Linked DNA regions of Homo sapiens. The protein of the gene in region 7 purifies or fractionates together with the protein of the main gene of each other region. This does not show direct contact. Each region holds a gene or a part of one and is shown on either strand. Other genes may lie near its edges. The genes, in order: CLGN, STK24, SGPL1, EPB41L5, PPP1R2, PRG3 and PRCP.

Region 1 (4,505 bases), on a different chromosome or scaffold from region 7:
ATGGGTGCCCTTCAGCAGCTGCCATTAACTGTTTTAATACACCAGGCTATAGACGAGATAAGCATAAAAATGCAATTCAAATTTTACAAACCTTTACTGGGTAACACAAGATACAAAAAAACTTATTTACTCAGGCATTTTACATTAAGGAGTGATGAACTCGTAAGTAAAAGAAGTTTCATTTTCCCACCTTATACTTTGTAAAGTCTAATTTAATTATTAGCATGCATCACTGAGTGAGACTTGATAGCAGAAGGTATGTTATGACAAAAGTGGAAACTTCTAACATACTGGCAAGAAAAATGGTAATTTTCCTTTTTGGTAAATTTCAGAATAGAACTACCTTTTATGGATGTATTACCTGGTTTATTTGAAGTGATCATTCATTCTGTACTCTGATCATTCATTCTGTACTTTTAAAGAACTTACTAAAAATCATACCTCAGAATTGTTTTCTTTTTTATATAAACACATTTCACACATAAGACCCTCAGTAAGGATATTATTTCTCTTATTAAAATAAAATTTAAAAAATCAAATGTTTTAGTTACAAGAGGTTCAAAACAAGAATCCCTCTTCACCTACTCTTTTGATGGTTTTTCGCTAGTGACCCAAGGAACCAAATGTAAGGTAAGAATTTTTCTTTATAGCAACTGAATTTAATGATACATTTTCTAAGATGCATTGTGTTGAAATATTTAGCCCAACCTTTTCTAAACAGTGTTAAGGTTTCGGGAAAAAACTGGAACAGAATTTAATAATGTTAAACTATAAATTCTTTGTACATTCCTCTAAGTAAAAAATAGTTAAATAAACAGTAATATTTAGATTATCATTGTCACTTAGGTCTTGAACTGGCAAGATGACAAAGATATTAAGTAGTCTTCTTCTATGAACAGTAAATAAGCATTAAATCCCATTAGTGATGTTATAATTTAATGAATAAAATGAGGACTTACATATGCATATATAGCTCATAATGAAGTAACATAAAAAGCAAAATATTCTGTCTACATAAACTTATTCAAACACATTTCCTTGGCATTTAGTAGTTACTGCACATTTATTTGCATTTAAAAGAGCCATCTGAATAACCTACAACCAAGACCAAGTATTATTATTCATAGTTATATCACTACTGCTATTGGTCAACACCATACCTTATTAGCATTTGCTATCATTATTTTCCATCTCCAACCATCTGCAGCCCAGTGATCTGCTACTTCCTTTTCCGAACAGATAATAAAATTATCAAAGTAGATATCAGAGGTCATAGACCAAAGCTCTAAACCAAGAGCACTGAAAGAAGTCAGAAGAAATGGATGATCATCTTCGAAATAATCTGGATTAGGAATTTTTCGAGGACTCCAGATTCCCTGGAAGAAAAGTAATTGAAGACATTTTCAAATAAAATAACTTCATTATAAATGCTGCTTAATAAGTAGCTGCTGTTGAATGAAATTCGCAATGCTAACTGGAAAAAAGAGAATTTTAACTGATATTAATTCATTAGTAATATACTGGATATAAAATCTTGTTTCTTTTGCTGTGTACACAATGTTCCCTACGAGTGATACTAACTTTAAATTCTGCAAGAAAAGGAAAAGGGAAAATCCAACATAAACAGAAACGTGAATAAATTTCACAATTTGTCTACTTTGGACAAATTTTTAGATTTAGTAAAGTTATTCATTGCAAAATGTTATTCAAGTTGTCCAAATCAGAAAGATCATTGTATAGCAAAAATGGAGTTACTCCATTTAACATATACCCATGACAGATATCATTAATCAGGTATGGTTGAATCTCGGCACAACTACTCAACCTAAAACTTCCATTAGATCTTAAATGATTAAACTGTCCATTAAATCAAATACATTCAACAATATCATTGCTCACTGACTCACTCCACCATCACATGTATGTATTCTGGGCCAGGCACTATGCCAGATGATGGAGACATACATGGTTCCTGTATTATGGAGTTTAAAGTCAAATAAAAGAGACAGACATCAAACAAAAAAATTTACCAAAAGAAACATTTTGTGTTAAATGCTTTTAATAAAAACTACAGTGAGTAATTAGAATATGAAACTGCATATATATAATGTTAGAACGTATCCATAAATAATTACAAAGATAAAACTAGAGGGTTAAGTGGATAACATAGAAACTTTTAATATAAAAAGCTAGGTACACTCAAAAGATGTCGATTGATATCAGAAAAAAATCAGGGCTGGGTTCGGTGGCTTACTTCTGTAACCTGAGCACTTTGGGAGGCCAAGGTGGGCGGATCACGGTCAGGAGTTCGAGACCAGCCTGACCAACATGTGAAACCCCGTCTCCGCTAAAAATACAAAAGTTAGCCGGGCGTGCTGGGGTGTGCCTGTAATCTCAGCTACGTAGGAGGGTGAATCAGGAGAATCGCCTGAGCCCAGGAGGCAGAGGCTGCAGTGAGCCAAGATCACGCCAGGCCAGGTTTTTTGTTTTTTTGTTTTTTTGTTTTGAGTCTTGCTGTGTCGCCAGGCGGGAGTGCAGTGGCACGATCTCAGCTCACTGCGATCTCCACCTCCAGGGTCCAAGAGATTCCCCTGCCTCAGCCTCCTGAGTAGCTGGGACTACAGGCGTGCGCCACCACATCTGGCTAATTTTTTGTATTTTTAGTGGAGACAGGGTTTCACCATGTTGACCAGGGTGGTCTCCATCTCCTGACCTCGTGATCCGCCCGCCTTGGACTCCCAAAGTGCTGGGATTACAGGCATGAGCCACCGTACCTGGCCAAAAATCAGAATTTTAATAATACTAAATAATAAGTACATTAATTAAGCACAGGCATTAATTACTAAAATGTACAATATGAGTCTATTTGATCAAAATTCACTTCTTATATTTACTTCTAAAATAGAACTTTATTTCAAAGTGAGCATCAACTGATAATTAGGGAAGAATATAGTATGAAGTGATTTATTTCCCCAGAAAATTAAATAATTGATGCTCTACTTTTAAAATATAAATTAGTTGAGGTCTATTTTCTTTGACATCTTAAAATTAAAAATGAAACTTCCAAAAGTTGACATAGGTAATTAGATATTTAAATAGAAAAGATCACAACATTTTTAACTTCACTAAATAATTGGAACAAGCGGTTGTTACCTGATAGTTAGGATTATCGACCAGTGGAGGTCTCCATACTCCTTTGTATTTTGGGTTATCTATCATGGGAGGTTTCCACTCACCACACCCAATCCGACATGCTGGATTAAGAATCTGAGGTGCCTCCCATTCTCCATCCGTGTCTTCATTCCTTAGGATATTAAAACAAAGCAAATACAGTAACCTCAAGTCTCAGATCAGTCATATAAACTAGTAACAAAAATGCATGTAAGAAACATTTGAAATCGACATTTGAAGATGAAGAGTGCTTACCAGTCATCAGGTTTTTCAGCATTAGGATCAGGGATAAATTTTGGTTCATCATCAAGCCAGCCAGCAGGTTTAACAACACTTGAATCTTCTATTTGGGCAGGTTCACTTTCATCCCTGTAAATACAACGTTTTATATTACTAATTATTCAGAAAGTTTAAAAATGCATGTTACAACACTAAGAAGGTACCATAAAATTATTTCCCTCCCTTTTGTTTGTGCCTGTTATTTGTCCTCATCTACTACCCACCTAAATCTTTTGCTAACTTGCCAATTTTTGGTACATATTCCCTGTTGTGCTCTATGCATACATGCACACACGTATACATTCTTTTTTTTAATACGAATGATAGCATTCTATACATAATGTATTAGACCTTGCTTTTGTTACTTAAAAACTCAGTCATTCATCAACAAATATATATTGCATGCTTACTATGTGTCAAGACTGTTCGAGGAGCTCCATTATTATTATTTTTTTCTTGAGGTGGAGTCTTGTTCTTGTTTCCCAGGCTGGAGTGCAATAGTGCGACCTCAGCTCACTGCAACCTCTGCCTTCCGGGTTCAAGCAATTCTCCTGCCTCAGCCTCCAGAGTAGCTGGGATTACAGGCACCTGCCACCACGCCTGGCTAAGTTTTTGTATTTTTAGTAGAGATGGGGTTTCACTATGTTGGCCAGGTTGGTCTTGAACTCCTAACGTCAGGTGATCCACCCACCTCAGCCCCCCAAAGTGCTGGGATTACAGGCATGAGCCACCATGCCTGGCTGGAGCATATATATATACATATATATATATATATGTATATATATATATATGTATATATATATATATACACATATATATATATACACATAGCTTCATTCTTAACAGTTGCATAGTTTTCTACTTGAGGATACACCATAATTTATTTAGCTTATCTCCTCTTGGAGGACATTTAGTGTTTCCAAAATTTTACTATTATTAATACAAACAATGCCATAGTGAATGTCCTAGAATATATGCCATTTCTCATCTGTGAAAATATAATTGTTAAGAGTATGGACATTTTAAATTTTGATAGTAGCATCCAAATTACTCTC
Region 2 (4,505 bases), on a different chromosome or scaffold from region 7:
AGGCATTTGAAATACTTGGCATCTCTCCCAGAGAACAAATGGTTACATAAGGTCCTCCCAAAAGCACACATTAGCCACGGAGCCTAAGACTCAACTATCAAGAAATACAAATGACTAAATCACGGGATGAGTTGATGTCACACAAAAGAATCCAAACATTAATTCCAGCTGAGACAGAAAGGCTCTGAAAATGCTTCAGAGGAGAGGCGGCTCTCATTTTTCCTACAGCCATCCACTGAAACAACATGTTTGGAGCAAAACTGGCAGGAAGTCTAAGCCATGGCCACCGTGGTTTTGGCAGCCATCGGGGTGAACGCTCAGTGGGAGCTTCAGGAGCAGGGAAGGAAGAAGTGGGTACCACAGCCAAGCCTGCAGAGAGATGATAAGCACCTCAAGAGGCAGCTCATCTGAGGACAGAGGAGGAAAGAGGGCACTCCTCATCACAGACAAAGGAAAGAGAGCACCAACTTGGCTTCCCCCATGCATCACTGCAAAGTAAAGTTTTAAACACAACACAGACATCAGGTAGCTACAGACCCGCCCGAGGGTAAATAGGGTCAACCCCAGCCACGATGCCCAGTGAGCACGTAAAATGTGCTGCGTCTGAATGGAGATGTGCTAAGTGTAAAACACACACCAACTCCAAAGACGGTCCCTCCAAAAATGTAAAATACCTTATTGATGATTGTTGTTATTAATGTTGAAATAATACTTTGGATCTGGCAGGTTAAAAAATGTATTGTTGAAACTAATTTCACTTCTTTTTGCTTTTTAAAAATATGGCTACTAGAAAATGTAAAATTCTCTTTTTGTTTGGTTTTTAGAGACAGGTTCTCACTCTGTTGCCCAGCCTGGAGTGCAAACGTGATCACAGCCATAGCCGCGAACTCCTCAGCTCGAACAATTCTGCAGCCTCAGCCTCCCAAGTAGCTAGGGCCACAGGTACAAGCCACCATGCCTAGCTAAATTTTTTTTTTTTGGTAGAGACAGGGTCTTGCTATTTTGCCCAGGCTGGTCTCAAACTCTTGGCCTCAAGCGATCCTCCTGCCTGGGCCTCCCAAAGCATTGGGATTACAGGCATGAGCCACCACATCCAGCAGAAAACATAAAATTCTGTGTGTGGCCCACGCTGTACTTCTACTGGCCAGCACTGGTACAGATCAACTTGCCTTAACAACTAAAAGAAGAGGAACAGAGAGATAGGGGCCTGGGAATGGGAAACGTGGATCAGTTCAACACATACAAGCCACACACTCTGTGCCCTGGAGCTGCCCTGGGGAAATCAAGTCACGTATATAAACAAACAGTTCATAACAATTTCAGGCAATTCTGGACAGTGTGGAAAGTATTGGTTTTAAAAGTAATACTACAAAAGCAGAGAGCAAAATGCCCAACAAGACAGTAACAATCCTACCCGTTTCTGGTTTTGTTCTATTTGTTTTATTATAAAGCTCTTTCTAATGGGAAATAAATGCCTCTAGAATGAGGTATGTGATGCTAAGTTTGAGAAATCAAAAAGTTTGTGTTCAGGCAAAAGATGGGTGACTTTTTAATTCTATTTTCCTTTATTCCTATATTGTTTTTAGTATCAAAGGAGGGAGGGATCGTCCTTCAATTGCCTCAAAATTGAAGGCAGCCAAGTAGATCATTTTTATTTTCTAGCAACTTAAAAAGTTGAAATGTCTTACTAAGAAACCCGAGTTCAGAAGCATAAACGTGAAGTATCAGAACTGTGGTTTTCTCCTGCTGTCCCCACGTAGAGGGGCTCTTCACAGGACAGTAGGCAGCCCCTTCAATCACTTCCAAATAGCAAAAGGGACCTCACGTGTGCAAAACTTCTTTATGTACTGTCAGGTGGGACGCAGTCTCAGGAAAGACCCAGAAATCCCCCTCATGATCACAGAGTCTCAGCCAGCTTTGGGAGGTGTCAGCCTGGACACCTGAAGATGAACTGTCAAGGCAGCAGCACGCCTGGTCCTCCTGGGGGTGTGGAGGACAGCCCAGTGACAAATCACCCTCAGGTCACACAGAGCGGCTTCCCAGCACACATCCACTGCCTCCAAACGCCTGCACTTGTGCCAGATGGCAGTCAGGAGGGGCTTGGTTCCCATGGATACTCCTACAACAAGTTGGGAGGGGGCAGGGAGGGCAAAACTGTCACCCCACTGAGTCCTCACCCATAGTGCATTCAACAGGTGGGGCCACTGGGCAGGGACAAAAGCTCCCTACAGGCTGGCACAGATGAACCCCTACCAAGGAGGCTTCCAGACATGACACACACAGCTAACACAGGGAACACACCTGCGCCCGCTCCCGCTGAGTTGACCACACCAAAGCTGCTGTCATTTCTCACACTTGACTTTAAAGCCGAAAACCAGATAGATAGTTACACACATCTGGCTAAGAACGATCATTCTCTGGCCAATAATTAAGCTGCATAATTAAGAGGAAACAGGTATTTCACCACCACCCTGTATTTATGTGGCAAAAGCTACAAATGCACTAAGTCCTGTGGGCTTTCCAGTAGTTTCCAGATTCAGATCCTTCATTCACATTGATTTCTAGAATTCAGAACAAAGTCTCCTCTAATTCAACTCTGTCTACCCTGAGGCCTGCAAGATAACAGGAACAGACAGGCCAAGAATCAAGTACCAAACTCATCAACTAAGTCCCAGCCCAAGTGCAGGTCTCTCCTTCCCCAGCCCAGAGGGGCCCTGGGTAGTTACCTCTGGAGCCGCTGCACGAGCTGGGCCACCATGGTGTCGGAGATGCCAGGGCACGCCTCCTCCGCTAGGTAGATGGCCCCTCGCAGCTCTTCAATGGACCCCAAGTTCCCTCCGCACGCCTGGCTCTTCTCCTTCAACTGAAAACACACGAACAGGAAGAATGGCATGAAGCACACCAGCTGCAAAACTGGGAAGCATGCTGTTCAAGGAACAACACGGCGTGTGGACCACGACACTACCCCAGCCCCAGGGTGTCCGGGAAAAGCTTTGGCTAGGGCTCCAGGCCACTTCAAATTGCTTTTTTTTTTTTTTTTTTTTGTGAGACGGAGTCTGGCTTTGTTGCTCAGGCTGGAGTACAGTGGCGTGATCTCAGCTCACTGCAACCTCCGCCTCCTGGGTTCCAGCGATTCTCCTGCCTCAGCCTCCCGAGTAGCTGGGATTACAGGCCCCTGCCTCCATGCCCAGCTAGTTTTTGTATTTTTAATAGAGACAGGATTTCACCATGTTGGCCAGGCTGGTCTTGAACTCCTGACCTCAAGTGATCCGCCCGCCTCGGCCTCTCAAAGTGTTGGGATTACAGGCGTGAGCCACTGTGCCCGGCCCGGGTTCCTTTTGAAGAAAGGTGATTCAAATGCTCTGAGAGCAGTTATGTATACACAGGGCAATCATCAGACCATAATCATTACTGTTCGAGGCCAGAACAGAGACGACTAGCTCTCTGTGTGCCTTTCCCAAGTCTCACCGTGATGGACTGTCCTCTCTGTGCTGTTTTCCTATTTCAACCATAACCTTGTACCAGAAAAGCAATTTCAAAGCCTATCCTAAGTTATTCTGATCTCAACACTGCTTACTTCCTAATGTTAATGGGTTGGTTCTTAAACTCCAGCAAACTGCCTTTGTGATCCAGAGTAGAGTCAAAATATTTGATTTCATGTAAATAAGTGGCAGCCTTAAATTCTGGGAATCTCCAGTGTTCTTCCTGGCACCTCTACTCCCAAGAGAAATCACAACAGTGCCTTCAGACACTTCCCTCAGTTGAAGGTCAACTCCAAGTCTCTCTCTGGAGGCCCAAAAACGTGAACTGTGAAAATAAGAGCTGTTCAAGTCAAGATACAGCATGGCTCAGAACTCAACAGAAGAGGCTCTTTGTGATGGACACCGCCTCCTCTTCAGGGAAGAAAGAAACATCTCAGGCGACATTCAGCTTGGTTTTCAGGTTGTTGAACACATGCTGTCATTTCCAAACCCAGCCCTGCCCTAAGAGCAACGGCTTCTCTCTTCGCTACTGAAGGGGCAGGCAGGAACTAGAAGGGTCTGACCTTGGAGGGCCAGTGGGTGTAGAGAGCATTTGTTCCTGAAGTTCTTGCTGTCACAGGGCCACGCCGCCGGCCCCGAGGCGGCCACTCGTGTTTGTCTAGGACTCCCAATCACTTGACAGTATTTACAAGTCCCGAGAGGGTCAGCTACAATCCAGCACTCTCCCTCCTGCCCATGCCCCGCCCCTAAGTCTCAAAGAAGGAGCAAAGGCGGCAGAAGGGCCGCCCTGGGAGAGGGCCTGTCCCCTTGCCGTGTGGAACGTGCTGGACCCATCACTGACTTCAGGGAGCAACCTGACCTGTGCTCCCTGAAGGAAAGCAGGGACGCCAACACCCGTCTCCTCAATGTCCTCATCTGTAAGCATGGGGATATAATCCTTCTACTGGGCTTCTACAAGTATTGTATGAAATAATACACAATAAACACTCTGAACTCTAGGGTAGCAAATATCATTCTTAAAAA
Region 3 (4,505 bases), on a different chromosome or scaffold from region 7:
TAGATCTAATGACTCAATCACTGACTTCGAACCTGTCTACCCAACTCCCAATTATATTCCCCTAGATGCTTCTGAGGCATGAAAGATGTACTAAAAAAATTTCTGGAAAAGTAATCTGCCCATCTCCACAGTTCTAAAAAGTCATATGTAATCCCTAAAGCAAGAAATGGTATAGCAGGTCTTAATAAATGGCCCTATCAGAGCTATAGGAGGACCTTTTATATATATCTAATTTTTATTTATTTGTTTGCTTATTTATTTGAGACAGGGTCTTGCTCTGTCACCCAGGCTAGAGTGCAGTGGTGTGATCATAGCTCACTGTAACCTCAAATTCCTGGGCTGTTCAAGCAGTCCTCTTGCCTTAAGCCTCCTGTGTAGCTGGGACCAAAGGTGCACACCACCACATGTGGCTAATTTTTATTTTTATTTATTTTTTATTTTTGAGATGGAGTTTCGTTCTTGTTGCCCAGGCTTGAGTGCAATGGTGCCATCTCAACTCACCGCAACCTCTGCCTCCCGGGTTCAAGCAATTCTCCTGCCTCAGCCTCCTGAGTAGCTGGGATTACAGGCATGCGCCACCACGCCCGGCTAATTTTGTATTTTTAGTAGAGACGGGGTTCTCCCTGTTGGTCAGGCTGGTCTTGAACTCTGGACCTCAGGTGATCCACCCGCCTCAGCCTCCCAAAGTGCTGGGATTACAGGGATGAGTCACCGCGCCCGGCCTCATGGCTAATTTTTAAATTTGTTGTAGAGATAATGTCTCACTATGTTGCTCCGGTTGGTCTTTAATTCCTGAGCTGAAGCGATCCTTTTGCCTTGGCCTCCCAAAGTGCTGGGATTACAGGCCGGAGCCACCGTGCCTGGCCAAGGATCTTTCTCAAATGAGAAATGCCTGCAGGCAGCTTTCCTTCCCCCTCAATATACTTAAAGAGCCTCCCCAATCCAAGTGACACATAGAGAGATGGGCAGATAAGATGTTAACAGATACATTAGACAAAGCATGCAGCCTGTTCTGGCCTTGGCTTAACCCAAGATTTCATTGCCCTCCTTTCCTCATTCCTTCTGGCCCATTTCCAATTATTTTCTTATTCCAATGATTCTTCAAGTATGATTCCTGGAGCAGTAGCATCAGTATCTCCAGAAATGGAAATTTTTAGAGCCCATCCCAGTTCCACTGAATCAGAAACTCTAGGGGTGGGCCCAGCTACCTGTGTTTTAACAAGTCCTTCAGGTGATTAGAATGCATGCTCAAGTTTGGGAATCACTGTCCTAACCATTAAATTGTACATTAGCCTTAGGGTAAGAGCTGCCAGTTATTAAGACATCCATAGAGATGAGATAAACTACAAATGAGGCCCCCGTCTCAAAGACCCTCCAAAAGTCAGGGCAGAGAAAGGGAGCTTCTTCTCCCAGGCCAGCTGGTCTGGCCTAAGCCCTAAGCTGCTGCCCTAAGCCCTCTATATCGCAGGAGACAACAGGTGGGCTAGGGCTATGGATACTTAGCCAGGCAGGTGCCTTGAGCCTACTAGGACAAAAAAGCAATAGACAAGGCAGAACCCCAGTCTTCCACACATACTCTGACTTGAGGAAGCGAGCAGTTTTGATGATCTGTTTGGTAGCTTCAACATAGCCGTTCTCACCGAAGTGCATCAAGGCAGCCCAACAGGCTGCGCTAATGCCACCAGGCCGTGAGCCTGCGATGGTTGGGGAAGCATAGATGCCACCCTGCCAATCTGTATCGACGAAGAACTGATAGTTCCTGTACTTCTTGTCACTATACAACACCAATGATGAGCCTTTTGGGGCATAGCCATACTGTGGAAGAAGTAGCAGACAAGAAAAGTGAGAGTATAGTTCTGTCTGGCAGACCTTGTCCCAGAACTCTCATCATGCAAAGGAAATCCTATTTATTTCTCAGTTTCTCTGTTATGTTTCCCACTCACATTAAGGATTCAAACTTAAAATGCTAAAGGATAGTAGGAACTTAAGGGATGGAGTTTAAATTCTCTCTGTTAGGAATGAGGAATCTGAGACCCAGGGAAGAACAGCGCCCAGTTAATCGGTTTACTCCCTCTCTTGCCCAGCATGTGGTTTACCTTATTTAAAATATTTCTCTGGAGACCATATGTCAGGATGAAAGCAAGGGTAAGTTTGCAATGGAAGCCAGGAAAGGATGGAATTTGTCACTTCAAGTTAAAATCACCATCTGACCCCCTTCCCATCTTTTTTTGCTTAGTATTACTAAGAATATTATGCTTATGAGAACATAATGGTGCTCAGAAACTAAAAGCTACTTAATCCAGCTTTAAAATTAACTATGTAACTGGTTTCCTTATAGAACATCTGACCCCCTAATTAACTCTTATTAAAACTAACGTGGAACTAATTTCATTACCTGAACCATCCAGAAATGGATGGTTATGGGAAAAGGACACAGGAGCTATCTGGATGGTAAGGAAAAAACAGATGCTGACTGAAAATCGGCTGCAGATCACACCGATTTTGAAAAACAAGTCTTTAATATACTTGAGTTTAAAACAAGCTCTGAAAATGCAATCAAAACAAGGTACACATTCCTGAGGCTGCTAATACTTCTTCCACATCTGGATGTATATTCAATAGCGTTATCAACTGATCTAGACTTTGTCTCAGTCCACCAAGGGTGGCAGGCGTGGCCATCTCAAATGCTGAATGTTCCTGAGCACACAGGTTCTTCCCATTTTCCAAAGGACTCTTCCGTCAACATTTTCCCGTCATGTACGCTCAGGAGCCCAGTTGCACAGCAGCTCTAATGTTATCTACCAGCATGGGAACTCCACTACCAACCCTCACACTCCTCTACCCTCCACCTCAAATCAGCTCAAGGCTTCAGGGAGCTTTTTTAACAAGGGCCACTACACTAGCATGTTCTAGTTACACACAGTCAGTGGATACAGAAATTCTCTTAGCCAATTTGAGATAAAGGTAACAGGTTCATTTTCACTACTGCTTGTCACCTCTACCACTATACCCCATCACCTGAACCAGCTGATCTGGTGACGGCAAAGAGAGAGTTTAAAACAAGCATCTGATGAGAATTCTATAGTTAATTTTATACTTTGCGGGGAAGCTACCAATTTATTTTATCAATAATAGTCAAAATAATCAACTGGTAACACTTGATCTCCTCCTTAGCTCACCTTATGGGTGTCAGCTGAAATGCTGGTTACACCTTTCACCCGGAAATCAAATGGGTGCTCCAGTGGGTATCCTGCTTTCTCCATAAAGACGATGAGGAAGCCTCCCAGACAAGCGTCGACATGAAGGGGTATTTTGTATTTGACAGCCAGCTTGTTCCAAAAAACAAAGAACATAAGAGAATTTCCTTTATAGCCCTATAATAAAAACTGCAAGACATGGGTGGAAAGATGGGCTATAAACACAAGGCTATTTTGTATTATGCCTCCCATGTTTTTAAAAAATGGCTATTTTTAACATTCCCAACAAAATTTATCTTTCAAATGTATTTTCCCTTCAAAATAATTCATCTGAAATATGGTATCAATTTTATATTTAAATATGCATGACCTCAAACGCTCTGCGGTATCAAGCAGGAAATGAGTAGAGCTCTGATTTAGGCTGCCTCTCGCACAAGGGAAAGGTCCTGCCTCAGTCACTGCAGGATGAGGCGTGAGGGAAAGGGAGGCGCTGAGGGGCAGCATGTGGAATATCACCCTTTTGGTGGGCACATTCCTACATGCAGATTATTTCCAGATCTCAATCTAGAAGGCAATCCTATTTCAGAATTTCCAGTTTAAAAGGCCTCAGCCTTGTACTATCTTCCCCCACAGCAGAGACTAGCAACTTTTAAAGGCTTGCAACTGAGCTGCAGGGCTTCCCCTAGGGCTGATGAGAGCTACTTATCACTACTGTGGTCAAAAACAAAAAAAAAATCGCTTCTATTTGCCAAGTACTGCCCCATTAGGCTTTGTTTTAAAATATCCATTTGCCTGCCTTAGCAGCCCATTTCTCTCATATACCTTGGCCACTTCAGGGACAGGATCTATTACACCATGAGGAAACTGTGGGGTAGAACAGACGAGCATGGCAGTGTTCCTGGAGATAGCTCTTCTCATTGCCTAGGGATTTAAAGTTTAAAGGAAAATGAGAATCTATGTCACAATTACTCTTCTCTTCTGCTGCCAAGAGCAATTTGGGCTGCTAGCTTAGAGTTCCAGTTCCACCAGTACCCCCTCCTTCACCACTCCAACTGGGAGAAGACTGCATCCCACCACGGTGACAGGACACAGGTGACTCCAGGTAAGTCCATTTGGAGAATAGTCTGAGAGCACAAAATAAGAACAGAATCGCTGTGGGGGCGAAAATAATATTGAGCTAAGAGGCCAAAGAGCCAAATGTGAGCCCCAGCCCCACAACGTACCAGCAGTGAAACCCTGAGTATGCTACTTCAGTCTGTTCCTTATCTGTGAACTACAATAATATAACAGCTTCATCAACCTCTCTGG
Region 4 (4,505 bases), on a different chromosome or scaffold from region 7:
TCTTTTCTTGCACATAATTAGAATCTTCTTTAACTAAAAACACACACAAAAAAGATTATACTTGAGTCTTAACAGTCAACATAAGAATTGCTTACCTTGCAGATTATAAGCTGCCAATTGCACTGCTGTATCAAAGGGACAGTCTAATCTGAGACCAAAACACAAGTTTGTTAGACAAGTTGATTTCATAACCTTCATTTTAAGACAAATGAAAATAATACATGTTTTATGTTGACCATTTCTTTTTTACAACTATAAACTTATTTTCAAAATAATTTTTCAACCACTCACGAAAATGTGCATTTATCCTTAAATAACTAATACTCACTTTCCACTGAGAATATCTTGTTTTAACTGAAGAACAAATAAATACCTAAGAAAAATGAAAGGCACAAATTTAACCCAACAGCACAATCGACTGTGAAAAAAAATCTTACACTTCTAACTTGAGAAGTATTATTTCATTAAAAATTACTTGTATTAATGTATAAAAGATGTGCATAGTTTGGGGATACATGAAATAATTGAATACATTCATATAATTTGTAAGGATCAAGTCAGTATACGTGGGGTATCCATCACCTTAAATATTTTTCTCTTCTTTATGCTAGAAATATTTGAATTATTTTCTTCTAGCTATTCTGAAATGTAAAATACGTAATTGTAAACTATAATCACCCTACTGATCTAACACTAGATCTTAGAAGTATTCTTAATTAAAGGCCTGGTGCAGTGGCTCACACCTATAATCCTAGCACTTTGGGAGGGCGAGGCGGGTGGATCACTTGAGGCCAGGAGTTCAAGACCAGCCTGGCCAACATGGCGAAACCCCGTCTCTATTAAAATACGCAAATTGGCTGGGGGTGTGAGCACGTGCCTGTAATCCCAGCTATTTGGGAGGCTGAGGCATGAGAACTGCTTGAACCTGGGGGAACAGAGGTTGCGGTGAACTGAGAACATGCCATTGCACTCCAGCCTAGATGACAGAGCGAGACATCTACTTGTTATGTGAAGGGATACAGACATGGATATAACTACAGATGATAGCTACTATCTCATTGTCAAGGTGTTCTAAAGGAAACCCTTCTAAAGGAACTCAAAAGCTCAACTTTTTCATTTAATAAATAGTATGTGTATATGGAGCAATGAATTTATAATAGAGACCATGAATAAATACAAAGGAGGCAGGATAACATTAAAATAAGTATATACAACATAAGGTTTATTCAAAACTATTCAAACCAATCAGAATCTAATGTTTTTCATTAATCAATGGCATTTCAATGAGTAAAGAAAGTTGGGCGCCAATTTGAATAAACTCCCTGTGGCCAAAGATAGATTATTTTCAACATCAATAAATATAATATTGCAATGTATTGAAACATGTGAATCCTGTTAACATTCCTGAGTTGAGAGTGATACTTAAAAAAAAGAACTCACTAGTCACCTTTGGAGGATGCTAAGAAACCAACTCTTTATTTTGAAAATGCTAAAGGAAAAGAATCATACACTTAAAAAACACGTCCCAGAATAAAATTCTATTATTTGAGGTCTTGTTACCAGGGGACAGGAATCCATTTTATTAGCTGGCTATAAATTGGAAACAATATAAAGACAGTCTTTCAAAACTATCAAAATAACCCTGGCACAATTCTAGATGGTGTTCTTACCGGGTTAGCTCCTCACGAAGGTTATTTGGTTCTGAGGAATAAAACTTAACTCGAAGATGCAGACAATAGGGTGAACCAACTGTCATTTAAAAAAAAAAAAGGTTTTAATAAAATAAACTACTTAAATAATACTTTTCAGCCAGAAAACTGGTCAAAAATCTACTGAAGTGAGACAAAAGATGAGGTTTTTATGGCATTATTGCAGGTTAGATCATAGGCTTCAATTAGATTGTTTTTTAATGTACCAAGCCATCATATTACTATTAACTCTCATCCCAAGAATAGACAGCTATAGATTAATTCTAACAGTTCAGAGCCAAATGCATCAAATAAAAGTCTTGACTGTGCAACCTAACAGCCCTGAAAACCTGCTACACTGAAGAATGCCTATGTTATTAACTGCTCATGGTGAATCTTCCCACACAAATACAATTCAGCAAGTTCACTAACTTCTATAATCTCAGTGGTCTCATTATTTTGAGACAAGAGTTGAGGTGCCCTAATAAGTCTGATAAAAAGTCAAGTTGGATAATGAATAAACAATGGTATTCTCTCTCTGAATGACACTAACATTTTATGTGAATTGTTTCATTTTTCTTAATTTTAAAATATCACAAAGTCTCAAAATACTTTCAATATTAGGGCAGATGCCAAACAGGAAAATTCCAACACAACTAATTAAAAAATAACCATTAAGCATTTCGGGGAAAGTCAATCCCATTTGCAAGCTGCAAGGTTTTCTCCTGGAAAGTTAAGCCCCAATGCAGTTTAATCTAGATTAGTATCAAGCCTACATGACTTGGGGAGTAGCTCAGTGTATCAGAATAAAATAATTTCTAGAAAATGGAAATGCTAAAAAACTCATCTGAAACATGATTTCTTACATCCTATTAGAAATCAGAATTTCTAATATATTCTATTTCCTTTCCCCCCCACAAATAATTTTGTCTGCACTTACTTTTTACTTGCTTTTTGATGCTTTTTGTACCATCCAACCAATGCTGAAAAACAAAAACAAAAATTTAGTTAAGCAGATGACAGAACTTTAAAATTTGAATGAATTACTAAAAGTTACTTTTCATTGTGCCTACACTGATAACCGCAAGGAAATACTTCACAAGAGAAAAACCCAAGTGAATGAGAAAAGAGGTGAGAAGGAAGAGTATCTAGCCAATATCCACCATAGCAAGCTTATGACACACGTGAACAAAAACGACCTAAAACCTGACAGATGACTTTTTTTTTTTTTAAATACTTTAAGTTCTGGGATACATGTGCAGAACGTGCAGGTTTGTTACGTAAGTATACACATGCCATGGTGGTTTGCTGCACCCATCAACACATCATCTACATTAGATATTTCTCCTAATGGTATCCCTCCCCTAGTCCCTCACCCTCCCAACAGGCGCCAGTATGTGATGTTCCCCTCCCTGTGTCCATGTGTTACCATTGTTCAACTCCCACTTATGAGGAAGAACATGCAGTGTTTGGTTTTCTGTTCCTGTGTTAGTTTGCTAAGAATGATGGTTTCCAGCTTCATCTATGTCCCTGCAAAGGACATGAACTCATCCTATTTTATGGCTGCATAGTATTCCATGGTGTATATGTGCTACATTTTCCTTATCCAGTCTATCATTGATGGGCATTTGGGTTGGTTCCAAGTCTTTGCTATTGTGAACAGTGCTGCAATAAACATATGTGTGCATGTGTCTTTATAGTAGAATGACTTATAATCCTTTGGGTATATACGCAGTAATGGGATTGCTGGGTCAAATGATATTTCTGGTTCTAGATCTTTGAGGAAATCACCACACTGTCTTCCACAATGGTTGAACCAATTTACACCCCCACCAAAAAAAGCATTCCTATTTCTCCACATCCTCTCCAGCACCTGTTGTTTCCTGACTTTTTAATAATGGCCATTCTAACTGGTGTGAGATGGTATCTCATTGTGGTTTTGATTTGCATTTCTCTAATAACCAGTGATGATGCGCTTTTTTTCATGTGTTTGCTGGCCATATAAATGTCTGCTTTTGAGAAGTGTCTGTTCATATCCTTCACCCACTTTTTGATGGGGTTGTTTTTTTCTGGAAAATTTGTTTAAGTTTCTTATACATTCTGGATATTAGCTCTTTGCCAGATGGATACATTGCAAAAATTTTCTGTACATTGTACATTTTGTACATTGCCTGTTCGCTCTGATGATAGTTTCTTTTACTGTGCAGAAGCTCTTTAGTTTAATTAGATCCCATTTGTCAATTCTGGCTTTTGTGGCCACTGCTTTTGGTGTTTTAGTTTGAAGTTTTTGCCCATGCCTATGTCCTGCATGGTACTGCCTAGGTTTTCTTCTAGGGTTTTTATGGTTTTAGGTTTTACACGTTTAAGTCTTTAATCCATCTTGAGTTAATTTCTGTATAAGGTGTAAGGAAGGGTCCAGGTTCAGTTTTCTGCATATGGCTAGCCAGTTTTCCCAACACCATTTATTAAATAGGGAATCCTTTCCCTATTGCTTGTTTTTGTCAGGTTTATCAAAGATAAGATGGTTGTGGATGTGTGTTGTTAATTCTGACGCCTCTGTTCTGTTCCATAGGTCTATATATCTGTTTCAGTAGCAGCACCATGTTGTTTTGGTTACTGTAGCCTTGTAGTATAGTTTGAAGTCAGGTAGCGTGATGCCTCCGGCTTCGTTCTTTTTGCTTAGGAATGTCTTGGCTATACGGGCTCTTTTTCAGGTAGCTTGATGGGGATACCACTGAATCTATAAATTACTTTGAGCAGTATGGCCATTTTCATGATATTGATTCTTCCTATCCATGAGCATGAAATGTTTTTCCA
Region 5 (3,704 bases), on a different chromosome or scaffold from region 7:
GCAAGTTGTATCCGATCCATCAATACCCTGCAGTTATTGCTACCATGTCTTCCTTCTTTCACTGATAAACCATTCTCTTCCTCTTTTAGGAGAAAGTCCAAGTTTGATATATGAGAGACCCTGGCCTATTGCCCTACTTGGGATGTTATTTGATGGACAAAATGGGGTGGTTACAGTGAGATATGTTTGAAAAAGGTAAAACTAAGTTTTAAATAGGTTCCTATAAGCAGGACTGCTCAGACTCCTTATTATGATAATAATGTACATAAGTCTCCAAGAGGCTGGGGAATAAAGTACACAGTATGTGCGAGGCTTGTTTATTGCCTCATTTTCACGGAGCATGGTGTGGGATAAGGGTTTCATGGAACACACTGGGCAATCCTGTGTTGGGTACATGTTGGCTTTTATAGGCTGACACGGTCCTTGACTTGTTAAGATGGATTGTATGAAAAAAATCACGTTCTGAGCTTGAAACAGCCTGCTAAGAAACAAACTTGCAAAACACAACCAAATGACATGCATTCATCTCCAGCCACTGGCTATTTGTGCTTTTGAGCGATTTTTCCTAGATGGCACACAAACTGCAAACAAAATTAAGTTATTTCCAATTTTTCAGATTTTAAAAAACCCCAGAAGCTCAAACACCTGAAAAATGCTACTCCTAAAGCATAGTTATGGATCAATAATCCATATACATTTATTTGTAAGGTACAATTTCTAAAATGTTTTCTACATCAAAAAATGTATGAATAAAGACCATGAAATTTAGTTAGGTTTGGATTTAAATCCTATCATTTAGCATGTGTGAGGCACTGAAATGATTAATAAATAAGTTGACCAAGAGCACTTTCCTCACTTACAAAGTGTAGATAAGAATGCTTGCCTTTGTGTGGTGGTTTTGAGGGTTAGATGTAAGGGACTGAGCACAATGCTACTAAGACTGAGGAAACTACTCGGCCACAGCGTAATCCATGATCCACTCCTGGTATCCAGGGCAAGTGGTCGATGGATTATGGTCTTGAGATAGCTAAGTAACAATAAAATAAAATCCACACACAGGCAATTGTCATATTATTGTATTTTATTACAGTACGTGTAGTGTATACTAACTGAAAGGGAAAAATGTAAACAAAACCAAAGTCATGGGGAAAATGGCATCTTGCTTTAATCTTCAACTGAAAGTTACCTTAACAATCCATTTACACCATTATGTCAAATTTTAGTCATCTCTGCAGAATTTTAGACAAATGAAAACAGACAAGGTAACACCAAATAGTTAAGCACAGAAAGTGATACTGATTAAAAAGTTGAAAGTAAAATCTACCTTGGCTAGAACTGAACATTCAGATCTGTCTCTCCAGAGGAAAATCTAACTTGAATCATAATGGTTCATATTTTGACTAGTTCATACCCTATCAATTACCTACTTATGACTTGAACATACCTTTTCTCAGCTGCATGTGACAGCCTAAAACCCCACTGAGCATGCTGCTTGGCATGCCTTACTCCTCTGAAATCATCATCTACTTTCTAAAAACCAGAAAATGAGTTTGTGATTTAAATTTCAAAAAATAGTTTGTAGAAAACACAAAAAGAATCAACTGTTTAAAGTCTTATCCTTTTCTTCACTCTATGACAGCTACTTCTACAAAAAAAAAAAAAGAGTATGTGGGTACTTTCTAAGAACTCAGAAACAAGAAAACCAAAATCAGAGGGTGCATGAATATATGTGCACGCACATGTACAGACTTAATCTCTACATCCCCCAAGACAGATTTAAACAGGTAATCCCAACATTTTAAATTCAGAAACCAGAGACAAACAGTTTTGTTTCTAAATCAGTGGTATTCCTAGCTGAAATGTTTAGAATACTGCACTCACAGTTCAGCAGTACTTTGATTATATATCTCATTCAAAAAATCAAAATAATGGCCACATTCTTCTAACAGCAAGGAATTCTCCCACTTTTTATTTATTTTCAAATACTGCTGTTTCCATAAACCTGCAAGTGGAAGATAAGCTGTTCAATAAAAGCCTTCTTTCATATATGTATCTATATATAAAATATACAGACGTTATTTTAGAAGTCTGTTCATATAACAGATTATTTTGGTACTAACAAAAGTTGTACACAATTCATCAATTGTATGGCTAGAAATGAAACCATAACTAAACCAAGACACACAGGGCTTTCCTGCACTTGGTTGAAGGAAAAAATTCCACCTAATTCTTACTGCGTTAGAAGAATAAAGCACGTTTGTCATAGTACACATTATCGTAGTCCCTTAAAGCAGGGACTATTTAACAATGTCCAGGCTTACTTCTGTCTGTACATTCAGGAATAATCATATCACTGGTTACATACAATTCTCATGCAAAGAAAACCCTCAAAAAACAAACAAAAAAAACCCTCAGTTAGTTGTTTTCTTAAGTCTAATTAATCCAAACTAATAATAGCCATTTAATTAGCAATCTGTAAATCAGAGAGGTATAGAAATTCAGCAGCTAAACTGTATTTCCCACCTATAGCACTGCTGCTACTCAAACTATTTTCTTCACGTATTAGAAGAATTCATAGGCATTGATGGTCAAAATAAGAATTTCAACATAGCAGCAAATGACAGAAGAGTGAGAGAAAGAGCTCCTAATGTGGTGACAGTCTTAATGATCCTTTAAAAGGTAGAAGATTGTGTGCGTATGTGTGGAAAGGAGTAGGAAAGAAAAGCAGGAGGTTAAGACAGGTATTTAAAGGGAATGGCGAGATAGCTACATTAGAATATTTATTTTTTTAAAAAACTGCTCTGAAGTCTGCCCAGTGTACCAAAAACATTAAAAAACAAAAACAAACAAAAACCCCCCAAAAACAAAAAACAGAGCAGACATTGGTGAAAGTTTAACCTGATAATTTATTTGTGGGGAAAAAAGCTAGTTTTGATGAGAAAAAGTTCAGTCCTTTCCTTGTAAACACAAAGAAACTCAACAGGAATTTTAAAAATAGTAGGTCAGAAAATGCAACAGTAACTCTTATAATTCTTTTCAATTAAACAGACAAATCAAGTTGAAGACAAGTGTTAAAATACTATTCAGCCTAAATATTTATCAGTCTATATATCCTGTTGTTCAATTGGCTTTTGATTTTTAAAAAAATCAAATCAATAAACTTTGTAAGAGCTACCACATTTCAAGTGATGAAAATAAATTAGTTCCCCCCCAAAGATATTGTTTAACTTCTAAAGCATAAAAAGCTCTATAATATCTTATACAAATTAACCAGTGTTTTTACAAAAGTAATGCAGTTTTGGACTGATGATATTACACTGTATTTGTGGTAAAGTACTAGGCACAAGAATATATATATCGATTAGGCATTTTCAGTCTAATCAGTCTCTAAGTTTATCATTTAATTCTTGGCAATATATAATAACTGGTATGCATTTTGGTACTTAAGTCATGAATTGTGAAGAACAAGAAGCAACGTACTATAGTCACAGGGTTTACATCTAACAAACAATTGCAGTGTTGAACAAATCTCGTCTATGAACTTCGTAATTTGTTTTGCTGTTGGTCACTTGGAGTAGATCCTGCAAAGATAAAAGAAAAAGTCAACATAATTTGTTATATGTTGTCAACCCTGGCTAAAGTTCCCTTCTATTAGCATGCATGACAAGCAAATATAAAAATTTTAAAAACAAATAAGGTATATT
Region 6 (4,992 bases), about 26 Mb from region 7:
TGTTAAAATGGAGGTTCTGATTCAAGAGGTCTGTGGTGGGGTCCAAGATTCTGCAGTTCTAACAAGCTCCCAGGGGATGGTGGTACTGCTGATCTATGGACCATACTGCTGATCTATGGACCGTACCAAATATAATGCCACTTATTCACCCACAATTCCAGAACCACCCTGAGAGAAGAAGGTCCCCATTTCAGGGATTGAAAAAAAACAGAGGCTCCAAGAAACCTATTTAACTAGCTTTCTAAGTGACTAAGCTGGGCCTGGACTCTGTCTCATGACTCCAGTGGTATGCTGGTAAATGTTTATACCAGCTCTTGGGGTGGGTGGGAGGATGGGGAGTAGAAAGGAGCCCTGATGTGTAGCAATTGCCTATTTCCTTTGTGTAAATACTCCCACCATGGCTGATGTCAAGCTGCAAGCATGTAGTCACTGAGCATGGAGTTGGTAAGAGATGTGCACCATCAGTTCTCCTGAGCCAGTACAAGCCATCTCCAGCACATCATTGCCTGCCACATTAAGGAAACCTTAGCTGCTGGCCTGAGGCTTGGCACCATCAGATGCTACTTTAACACATTCAGAAAGAACTTACTGCACCCAAGATTTGGCCCCTGACTTACCCAGCCCCTGAGGTTGCCTCCAATCCAGACCTGGGCTTGGTTGACTGTGCTAGTGCAGCACTGAATGCGATAGTTGAAGTTGAAGTCATGGATAGAGACAAGGTTGCCTCCGTAGCATCTGCTGCAGACATTCTGCAGACGGAAACAAAGTAGAGAATTCCCTCTCATTTATTTCAAGTTTCTGAGTCTCCAGGCAAGAGCCCGGCATCCCTTTTCAGGTTAAAAATAAACCTACTTGCCTCCCTTAATCCTATCTTTTGCTTCTTAATTAGCTGTCAGGACAATCCTACAGGAAATGATAATACTCATAATAATTATAACCACCGCTTATTGAGAGTTTATTACAGCCCAGTGACTATTCCAAACACTTTTCATGTATTATCTCATTTAATGCTCACCACAACTCTAAGAAGTTGGTGCTATATATCTTCGTTTTACAAATGAAGGTGCTAAAGCTTTGAAAGGCAAAGCAACTTGCCCAGGTAACACAGCTAATAAAAGGCAGAACCAGAATTTAACACAGGCGTTTCTAACACCAAAGCCTTTTGTTTAAATCGGTGGTTCTCCCCAGACCAACAATATCATCATCACCTGGGGATTTGTTGTAAATGCAAATTCTCAGGCTTCACCTCAGCCCTCCTAAATCAGAAGTCGTGCAGGTGAGGCCCAGAAAGCTGTGTTTTAACAACAACTCCAGGTGATTCTGATGCATGCGAGGCTTTGAGAACCACTAGCCTAAATGAATAGGGAACAGAAGACTGAATGTACTCTCTTTTCCCCCAGGTCCTCCGCAGTAGCCTCCCTACTACTTACCTGAGCTTCTGCAAAAGTTTTAGGAGTCCGCACCAATAGGTAGCGGCAGATCTTGCACCTTGGACTTCCCTGCACTTCAACAATGTCTTCTTCCCTGGGGCACTGGAAGTCCTTGTCTAAGGCAGCTGGGTCCGACTCCATGGCTTCCTCATCCTCAAAGTTGTCTTGACAGGCAGAAGCCTTGACCTCCTCTCCCTCTGCCTGAATCACCTCCTCCGTCAGAGCCAAGTCTCTCTCCTGCTCCTTTGAACTATCCAGATCCTGGCCTAGGTCTGCCTGTGTCTCTAGGCTCTCCAGATGGGGGGCATCATTCTCTGGGAAGAAGAGGTAACCTGCCATCAGGTCAAGAGCTTCCTAGTTCCAGCACCGTGGACAGCTCCAGCAACGTCGCTCGAGCTTTCCTAGGAATTCCACCTGAAGACAAGACTGGAGGATTTCCTTGGTGTTAGGTAAGGAGAGATCTCTCGGGTCACACCCACAAATGGACAAGAACCTGACTTCTGGCCGACACCACGAGTGTGTGTTTTGAAGGTGGGAGAAAGCACGTGTGAGAAGCCTGGGGCAGTCACCAGCCCTTCATCTTAACAGGTGGGTGGTTTTTCCTTCTGAAAGTTCAGGTTACAGTTTGCCGGGTGCGGTGGCTCACGCCTGTAATCCCAGCACTTTGGGAGGCCGGGGCGGGCGAATCACAAGGTTAGGAGTTTGAGACCAGCCTGGCAAATATGGTGAAACCCCATCTCTACTAAAAATACAAAGATTAGCCAGGCGTGGTGGCATGTGCCTGTAGTCCCAGCTACTCAGGAGGCTGAGGCAGAAGAATTGCTTGAACCCGGGAGGCGGAGTTTGTGGTGAGCCGAGATCGCGCCACTGCACTCCAGCCTGGGCAACAGAGCGAGACTCCGTCTCAAAACAAAACAAAAAACAAACAAAAAAAAAAACAAAAACAACAACAACAAAAAAAAATCAAACAAAAAAGAGAAAGTTCCAGGTTACAGTTCTGAGTCCAAGTGATATCTTACCGGAGATGAGCTGTATCAGCTAAAGAGGGAAGGCTGTGGTCCTGGCCTCATGAGTGCAAATAAAAGCGGGGGGAGGGGAGTGTAGGAAAAAGGAAAAAAGGGAAAGACGCATGAGGAGGGAAGGGAGAGACTTACCCAGATGAAGAGCAGAAACTGTTCCCAGCAGGAGAAAGGGCAGGAGCAAGAGGCATTGCATATCTACTGTCTTTTAGCGAGGACACTACTCCACCGTCCTTCTTGGGGCTGTCTTTGTGTGTCTAGTATAGCCCCTGGCACATAGTATAGAGGGAATATTTGTTTAATTGTTTGATTAAAGAGCAAACAAGATTGCTTTCTCCTCTTGCCATGAACAGACCCTGAGCTGGAGAGTCTAGAAAAGGAATGGTGGGAGGGATAACTCAGGTACCAAATTTCATTTGTCTTCCAGTCTCCGTTGCTGCTCTCCAGTATCACCCTTAGCCCAGACTCCTGCCCCTGCGGGGACAGGTCTGCTTAGCTATGATGTTCCTAAGGACAGGCCTCCTACGTGTTTGCCCTATGAGGTGCTGCTTCTTCCCAGGGCCTACACTGGTCCTGCCTGGGCAGCCAGAAAAGAACTCACCTTCCAAGAGTCTGAGACCTCCACTCTCAGTGCCTCTGGCTTCAGGGGCCAGAAGCAGCCTTTATACTGGGTTTTTGGGGAAGTGGGAAGAGGCCAGAATGATTGCTCCAGGACAGAGTGGGGGACAAAGGAGCTGATAATGAAGTTTGCTCAGTCTTCTCAACCCTGTGCCCTGCTCTCTGCTGGGACTGCAGGGACCTGCCTCCTGGGGCCTACTGCCTTGTTTGGGTACCCCACACCCTGGTTTGCTTCAGAAGGCCCTAGATGTTATGTCCATTGTCCAGGCATAATTATTATTTATGCCCCCTAAAATGCCCCAGTCTGAACAACACGCCTTAACTCCAGGAGTAGCCTCCTGCTGGTGGAATCCCAGAGAGTGAAGTGGAGATCCCAGGGAGCTGGTGGGAGACAATGGGGGGAAGAAACAAGAGGGGAAAGGGAGGTTCAGTGCTCCCAAGCTCTCACCCATCCTAGGGGCATAGTGTGCAACACACCCCTCACCCTCATCTCCGCATCATCTCCACCAGGTACCACCCCTACTTCACAGAGGCAAAATGTGAGATTCAGAGAAAGAGAGAAGGCAACTTGCCAAGGTTCCATGGGAAGTGGAAGAACTGGAATTTCTAAGTCTTTTTGACTCCAAAACCTTCTCTCTTTCTTTCCTCTCTCTCTTTTTTCTCTCCCTTCCTCTTTCTCATCTTTTTTTTTTTTCTTTTTGAGACGGAGTCTTGCTCTGTCGCCCAGGCTGGAGTGCAATGGCAAGATTTTGGCTCACTGCAAGCTCCACCTCCCGGGTTCAAGCGCTTCTCCTGCCTCAGCCTCCCAAGTAGCTGGCTAATTTTTTGTATTTTTAGTAGAGATGGGGTTTCACTATGCTGGCCAGGCTGGTCTTGAACTCCTGACCTCGTGATCCACCCACTTCGGCCTCCCAAAATGCTGGGATTACAGGCATGAGCCACTGTGCCTGTCCTCATCTTTTTTTTTTTTAAGAGACAAAATCTTGCTCTGTCACCCAGGCTGGAGTGCAGTGCTGCGATGATAGTTCACTGTAACCCTGAATTCCTGGGCTCAAGTAATCCTCCTGCCACAGCCTCCTGAGTCACAGGGATTACAGGCACAAGCTTTCTCATCTTTAATGTGTGAAAAATCTACATCCTTTCTTCTGTGCTGTGGATCTAGATCAAGGTTCCTCAACTTTGTGCTATTAATATGTGAGGTCAAATAACTCTTTATTGTGGAGGGGCTGTCCTGGGCGTTGTAGAAAGTTTAATGGTCCCTCTGGTCTCTACTCACCAGATGTCAGTAGCCCCTCTCCCCACCCCCGCAGATGATCAAAAATGTCTCCACATGTTTCCAAATGTCCTCTGGGGAGAAAAATGGCCCCAGTTGAGGATCTCTGATCTAGGATATGCCACCTTGCCCAACCTCAAGGCATAGCTTCAGGGCTGGCAAACAGGCAGCATGAAAAGCTCCATACAGAGTCTCTCCAGCACTCTGTAGATCATCCTCTCCAACCAACACTCCCCTCCTCACCTCCCATCTCCCACCAGTCTTCTGTCACCCCAGGGTCTGGACTAGAATCAGGCAGGGGAGGCTCTCAACTCAGACACACTAAGAAATTAAGGGGACACTAAGAAATTTACTATTCAAGATAAATAACATTTTAATGCAACATTTCTTAAAAATTGAAATTAATGCAAAACAAAACATCAAAATTTTAACTGACCAAGCTCTAGACAAAATTTGCTGCACTTTAAAGAGAGGCCAGCATGTCTCAAGCCTTGAATTTGCCAGATGTCTCTGCCAAGAGCTAGTGGACTTGTCAGGGTGAACTCAGAGGCATCCTTGTGGGATGCTTCTCAGAACTATGCCTGGCACATGAGTGGAGGGTGACCCTTGTCAATTAAAATGTGCAGATTGGTAGGACCGGGCACGGTGGCTC
Region 7 (4,505 bases):
TTCCCCATCCCAGCTCCCACTTTTAGCAACCTAACAGACTCAAGTGACTTTTACTGTGTCAGAAATTCTGTCTGGAATACCATCCCTCTTCCCCACTATTTAAACTCATAATTCTATTCCAGCAGAAATGTCTCACCTCTTCTGCGAATCTTTGACTTCTTTAAGGAAATTTAGTTGGTCTTTTTTCATCCTGCACATTTACTATATTGTATGTGTCCCTCCAGCTCGTTAGTACTCTACAATACCTAGAAGAGCCTATAAAAAAGTATAAAGCACAAAATAAATAGTTGTTGAAAGAGTGAATGCATGATTATTCAAAAAGAACCTAAACAAAGCAAAGGCTACCATCATTTAATTGTCACAAATCATTTTTTATTTTTCTTTTTATCTTTTACTTTAATTCTTTACTAATTATTTTTTCCTCCTTTTTCAAGGTCTTCAAATATTGAGTTAGGTAGGACTATTTGATTTCTTTTACCTGAAATAACTGAATTAGGAGACCAGAGAGAGGATAGTACATCACTTGGGCACATCGAGGCTCTGGGTACATGTGTAGTATGTGTGGTATCAGTGTCATAAAGGGCTCTCTGGAATATGTGGCTTGTGGTTACAATGTTGCATGCTTATTACCTTGTACCTCCCACCTGAGCCCCTCAGGCTAGAATGTGAGTCCCAAATCACACATTTTAGTGTGTGATGTAGTGAAGAGGGAGAATGGGTCCTGTCAGGCCATCATTTTTCTCAGTGGTAAAATTGGGAGCAATATCTATTGTATTAGGGTGTGTGTCTGTGTGTTTCTCTCTCTATGAGAGAGATTTTTATTAAGGAATTGGCTCATGCAATTGTGGAGGCTTAGTAAGTCCAAAATCTTCAGGGTAGGTTGGAGGCTGGAAACCCAGGGAAGAGTTGCAGTTTGGATGCCCAGGCATTCTGCTGGCAGAATTTCTTCTTGCTTAGGGGAAGTCAGTCTTTTTTTTTTTTTTTTTTTTTTTTGAGTTGGAGTCTCGCTCTGTTGCCCAGGCTGGGGTGCAGTGGTGAGATCTCGGCTCACTGCAACATCTGCCTCCTGGGTTCAAGTGATTCCCCTGCCTTAGCCTCCCGAGTAGCTAGGATTACAGGTGCCCGCCACCACGCCTGGCTAATTTTTGCAGTTTTTAAAATACAGACAGGGTTTTACCATGTTGGCCAGGCTGGTCTTGAATTCCTGACCTCAAGTGATCCACCCACCTTGGCCTCCCAAAGTGAGGGGAAGTCAAACTTTGTTCTATTAAGGCCTTAAACTGATTAGATAAGGCCCACCCAAATTATGGAGGGTAAAGTCCACTGATTTAAAGTCCGCTGATATAAATGTTAATCTCATCCAAAAAATACCTTCACAAAAACATCTAGAATGATATTTGACTAAATAGCCGGGCACCATGGCCTATAAAGTTGGCATATAAAATTAATCATCACATCCACCAAGGTTGTTGTCAGAGTTCAGTGTCGTAACAAATGAAAGCCACATGGATGGTGCATAAAACATGGTAGGAGTTTAAACAACTTGATGGAACAAGTGCTAGTTCCTTCACAACTCTGTCCTGAAAATACACTCTCATCCAAATGCATGACAATAGTGGTAATGCCTCTTCTGAAAACTTAGTACCCAGCTATTCCTATTTAACTGCTGATCATTGTTTCTGTTACAAGTCTGTGTGTTGGCCCAGCATTGAGCTCATGGTCACTGACTTCTGCAGCTCCTTCCTCATTTGCTGTGAGGGGATCACATCAGTGGGCTAAGCTATTTAAATTTATGTACATCCTTTATAGTTCCACTTTCAATTGCTGTTCTAGGTTCCCCTTTCCCACCTTTGTCACAGTGGCCCTGATGTCTAGTAAAATGTTATGTCTAGCTATGTTAGGCACCTTGTAGGGCATGTTGATAAAGATCTTTCTCCTCCTCCTTTAAATTTTTCTTCCCCTTTCTCCTCTTCTTATCTGTTCATCTATTGATGGACTTTCCCTTAGGCCTGGAGTGTCCTGTCAGAAATATTGTGTGAATTCAGAACTGATTTATGTGTTTGGTGACACAGAATCATTTTTAGAAGGGGCCTTAGAGATCATGTAGCCTTCCCCTTAGATATGATGGATTGACCTTGATCTAAATTATAGAGGGTCAGAAACTTGATAGAGCTTGAACAGGAGGGTGGTTAAAAGCACAGCTTTTAGTGCTGGGTGTGGTGGCTCACACCTGTAATCCTAGCATTTTGAGAGGCTAGGAGGATCACTTGAGGGCAGGAGCTAGAGACCAGGTTGGGCAACATAGTGAGACCCTGTCTCTACAAAAAACAAAAAACAACTACAACAAAACCTAAAGCATACCATTTAGAGGCAAACAGGTTTGAGAGCAAGTTCTGTTTCTGCCACTACCTGAGTAAGTTACTCAGAGGCAGCCCCTATTTTCATAATCAGCAAAATGGAGATAATTATATTACCTATACCATAAGTTTGTTGTAAAAAGAGGTGGTATGTGTAAAGTGCATATTTAGCACAGTGCATAACAGTTAGTAAACAATAAATGATAAACATTATTTTTATCTTGCAGTTTCCTAATGTACATGGCTTTAATTAACCCCTTCACTTTTTTAAAATCAATAGGATTAAAATAATCAATACTTTAATAGATTTGTGGCCTAGGAATTAACCTTTTTTCTTGCTTAAAATCATTCTTTTCACACAAGATTCTGTACATAAAAAGAAGCATATGAAACTATTTCTATTTTTCTTTCTATGCTATTTTAAGTGTTGATAAAGTGTTGGGGGGAAATATGGTAATGAATTTACCCTTTTAGGTTTTTGGAAGTACCTTCTTCTCTTGATAACAATAGTAAATCTAACACTGTCTTTCTGATAGCTGAGTTTTAAATTTCTTACTAGCTAATGCTAAAATCTAATTTCAATAAAAATTAACTTTAGGTTTTTCACTGACTTGTTTATATTCCTCTGTCAGCATACTGCAGGAACTTTGTGCTTTAGAGAATTTAGACTTTTAAAACATTTTCAAAGTTTGGGTTCTAGGATCAGCCCTGCCACTAAATCACATCATACTTTTGGGCAAGTTGCCTAACCCTCTAGATCTCATTGTACTAATTTGTAAGATAAATGGATTGGATCTGCTGATCTCTGATTTACCTATAATTTTGTTCACTGAGTGCCTCCTGTTTATAGGGCACTGCGTTAGGAACAGTGGGAATGTGGGTACAAGTTTTGTTTTTTGCCATAACATTAATTGCCTTTGATGAATTGGACCTAAACAACTTTACTATCTTGACTTTGAATAAGACACAGACCCATAACATATAAAGTGTTTTTAAATTAAAAAGTAATCACCTCTTCAATTGGTACAATATTTATAATATTGCATAGTTGATTTATATTATAATATAATAAAACATTGTGTTTATGATTTTAAAGTTTGCTTGGTTGTGGGTCTATTGCAGAAGAAAGGAGAATCATAGGTAAGGAGAATACCTTGATGGTAGATCTTATTTGTCTTCATTTCTAGTGCCTTGGATGGTACTTCTTTTTATTTTTTTATATGGTTCTGACAGGATATGGTACTTCTTAATAAAGATATTATGAATTGAAAAAATTGACCATAAATTAAAATGAATAAGGAGTAAGAGATGAAAGTAAAATTACATATGTAGTGTAAATGTGTCTAATGCATTATTAATGATAGTAATTTACTACCATTTATTGAAAGCTTCAAATACCGTAAATATTATCCTAAGTACTTAATAGACATTCACTTAATTAATCCCTATTACTGTTCTATGAGGTAGATGCTATTATTCCATTTTGTAGGCAAGAGAACTATCCTTTTTGTTTGTTTATTTTTAGACAGGATCTTGCTCTGTCACTCAGGCTGGAGTGAAGCCATGTGATCATAGCTCACTAGAGCCTTGAACCTATGGGCTCAAGTGATCCTCCCACCTCAGCATCCCGGGTAGCTGGGACTACAGGTGTACACCACAATGCCTGGCTAATTTTTTAATCTTTTTGTAGAGATGGGATCTCGTTATGTTGCCCAGGCTGGTCTTGAACTCTTGTCCTCAAGCAATTCTCTTACCTTGGTCTCCCAAAGTGCTAGGATTACAGGCAGGAGCCATCAAACTCGGCGAGCAAGAGAACTATCATATAGAGAGGTTAAATTATTATACTGAGCTATACTACTTATCTGTACCATTTTGTTTTTCTGAAATTAAACTCTGATTAATTTCTAGTGCTGAAATGAATGCCATTAGCTTGCTTGTATTATCCAGGATAAGTTAGGTTTTGCTGCTATAGTAAAATTTATGAATTTCGGTCACTTAACCTAACAAAATGTATGACCCTTACTGTCATAAACTTCCAATTGAATGAGCAGGGGGCTGTGCTCCTGCTTTCACTCAGAGACTAAGTGGCTGATCGGGGTTTCCTTTTTAGCATATGCTTTCATGAACACTTAGCAGTGGAAAAAGAAC

The links.
Region 1: the proteins of PRCP (region 7) and CLGN purify together in Homo sapiens (co-immunoprecipitation; one large-scale study listed by IntAct). This does not show direct contact.
Region 2: the proteins of PRCP (region 7) and STK24 fractionate together in Homo sapiens (co-fractionation; one large-scale study listed by BioGRID). This does not show direct contact.
Region 3: the proteins of PRCP (region 7) and SGPL1 fractionate together in Homo sapiens (co-fractionation; one large-scale study listed by BioGRID). This does not show direct contact.
Region 4: the proteins of PRCP (region 7) and EPB41L5 purify together in Homo sapiens (co-immunoprecipitation; one large-scale study listed by IntAct). This does not show direct contact.
Region 5: the proteins of PRCP (region 7) and PPP1R2 fractionate together in Homo sapiens (co-fractionation; one large-scale study listed by BioGRID). This does not show direct contact.
Region 6: the proteins of PRCP (region 7) and PRG3 purify together in Homo sapiens (co-immunoprecipitation; one large-scale study listed by IntAct). This does not show direct contact.

What each region holds. Positions count from the first base shown.
Region 1 is NC_000004.12:140,392,666-140,397,170, forward strand, and holds part of CLGN (calmegin precursor), read right to left. Parts: intron 3,541-4,505; coding exon 3,427-3,540; intron 3,305-3,426; coding exon 3,154-3,304; intron 1,377-3,153; coding exon 1,161-1,376; intron 47-1,160; coding exon 1-46. UniProt on the Homo sapiens protein: Functions during spermatogenesis as a chaperone for a range of client proteins that are important for sperm adhesion onto the egg zona pellucida and for subsequent penetration of the zona pellucida.
Region 2 is NC_000013.11:98,454,442-98,458,946, forward strand, and holds part of STK24 (serine/threonine-protein kinase 24 isoform b precursor), read right to left. Parts: intron 2,864-4,505; coding exon 2,727-2,863; intron 736-2,726; exon of another isoform or gene 1-735. UniProt on the Homo sapiens protein: Serine/threonine-protein kinase that acts on both serine and threonine residues and promotes apoptosis in response to stress stimuli and caspase activation.
Region 3 is NC_000010.11:70,870,661-70,875,165, reverse strand, and holds part of SGPL1 (sphingosine-1-phosphate lyase 1), read right to left. Parts: intron 4,119-4,505; coding exon 4,020-4,118; intron 3,330-4,019; coding exon 3,180-3,329; intron 1,816-3,179; coding exon 1,577-1,815; intron 1-1,576. UniProt on the Homo sapiens protein: Cleaves phosphorylated sphingoid bases (PSBs), such as sphingosine-1-phosphate, into fatty aldehydes and phosphoethanolamine. Elevates stress-induced ceramide production and apoptosis.
Region 4 is NC_000002.12:120,071,344-120,075,848, reverse strand, and holds part of EPB41L5 (band 4.1-like protein 5), read right to left. Parts: intron 2,672-4,505; coding exon 2,629-2,671; intron 1,750-2,628; coding exon 1,671-1,749; intron 374-1,670; coding exon 329-373; intron 149-328; coding exon 96-148; intron 1-95. UniProt on the Homo sapiens protein: Plays a role in the formation and organization of tight junctions during the establishment of polarity in epithelial cells.
Region 5 is NC_000003.12:195,513,362-195,517,065, forward strand, and holds the end of PPP1R2 (protein phosphatase inhibitor 2), read right to left. Parts: intron 3,582-3,704; coding exon 3,535-3,581; 3' UTR 1,067-3,534; downstream 1-1,066. UniProt on the Homo sapiens protein: Inhibitor of protein-phosphatase 1.
Region 6 is NC_000011.10:57,378,064-57,383,055, forward strand, and holds the start of PRG3 (proteoglycan 3 precursor), read right to left. Parts: upstream 3,088-4,992; 5' UTR 3,051-3,087; intron 2,719-3,050; 5' UTR 2,646-2,718; coding exon 2,585-2,645; intron 1,745-2,584; coding exon 1,431-1,744; intron 750-1,430; coding exon 618-749; intron 1-617. UniProt on the Homo sapiens protein: Possesses similar cytotoxic and cytostimulatory activities to PRG2/MBP. In vitro, stimulates neutrophil superoxide production and IL8 release, and histamine and leukotriene C4 release from basophils.
Region 7 is NC_000011.10:82,893,167-82,897,671, reverse strand, and holds part of PRCP (lysosomal Pro-X carboxypeptidase isoform 1 preproprotein), read left to right. Parts: intron 1-4,505. UniProt on the Homo sapiens protein: Cleaves C-terminal amino acids linked to proline in peptides such as angiotensin II, III and des-Arg9-bradykinin. This cleavage occurs at acidic pH, but enzymatic activity is retained with some substrates at neutral pH.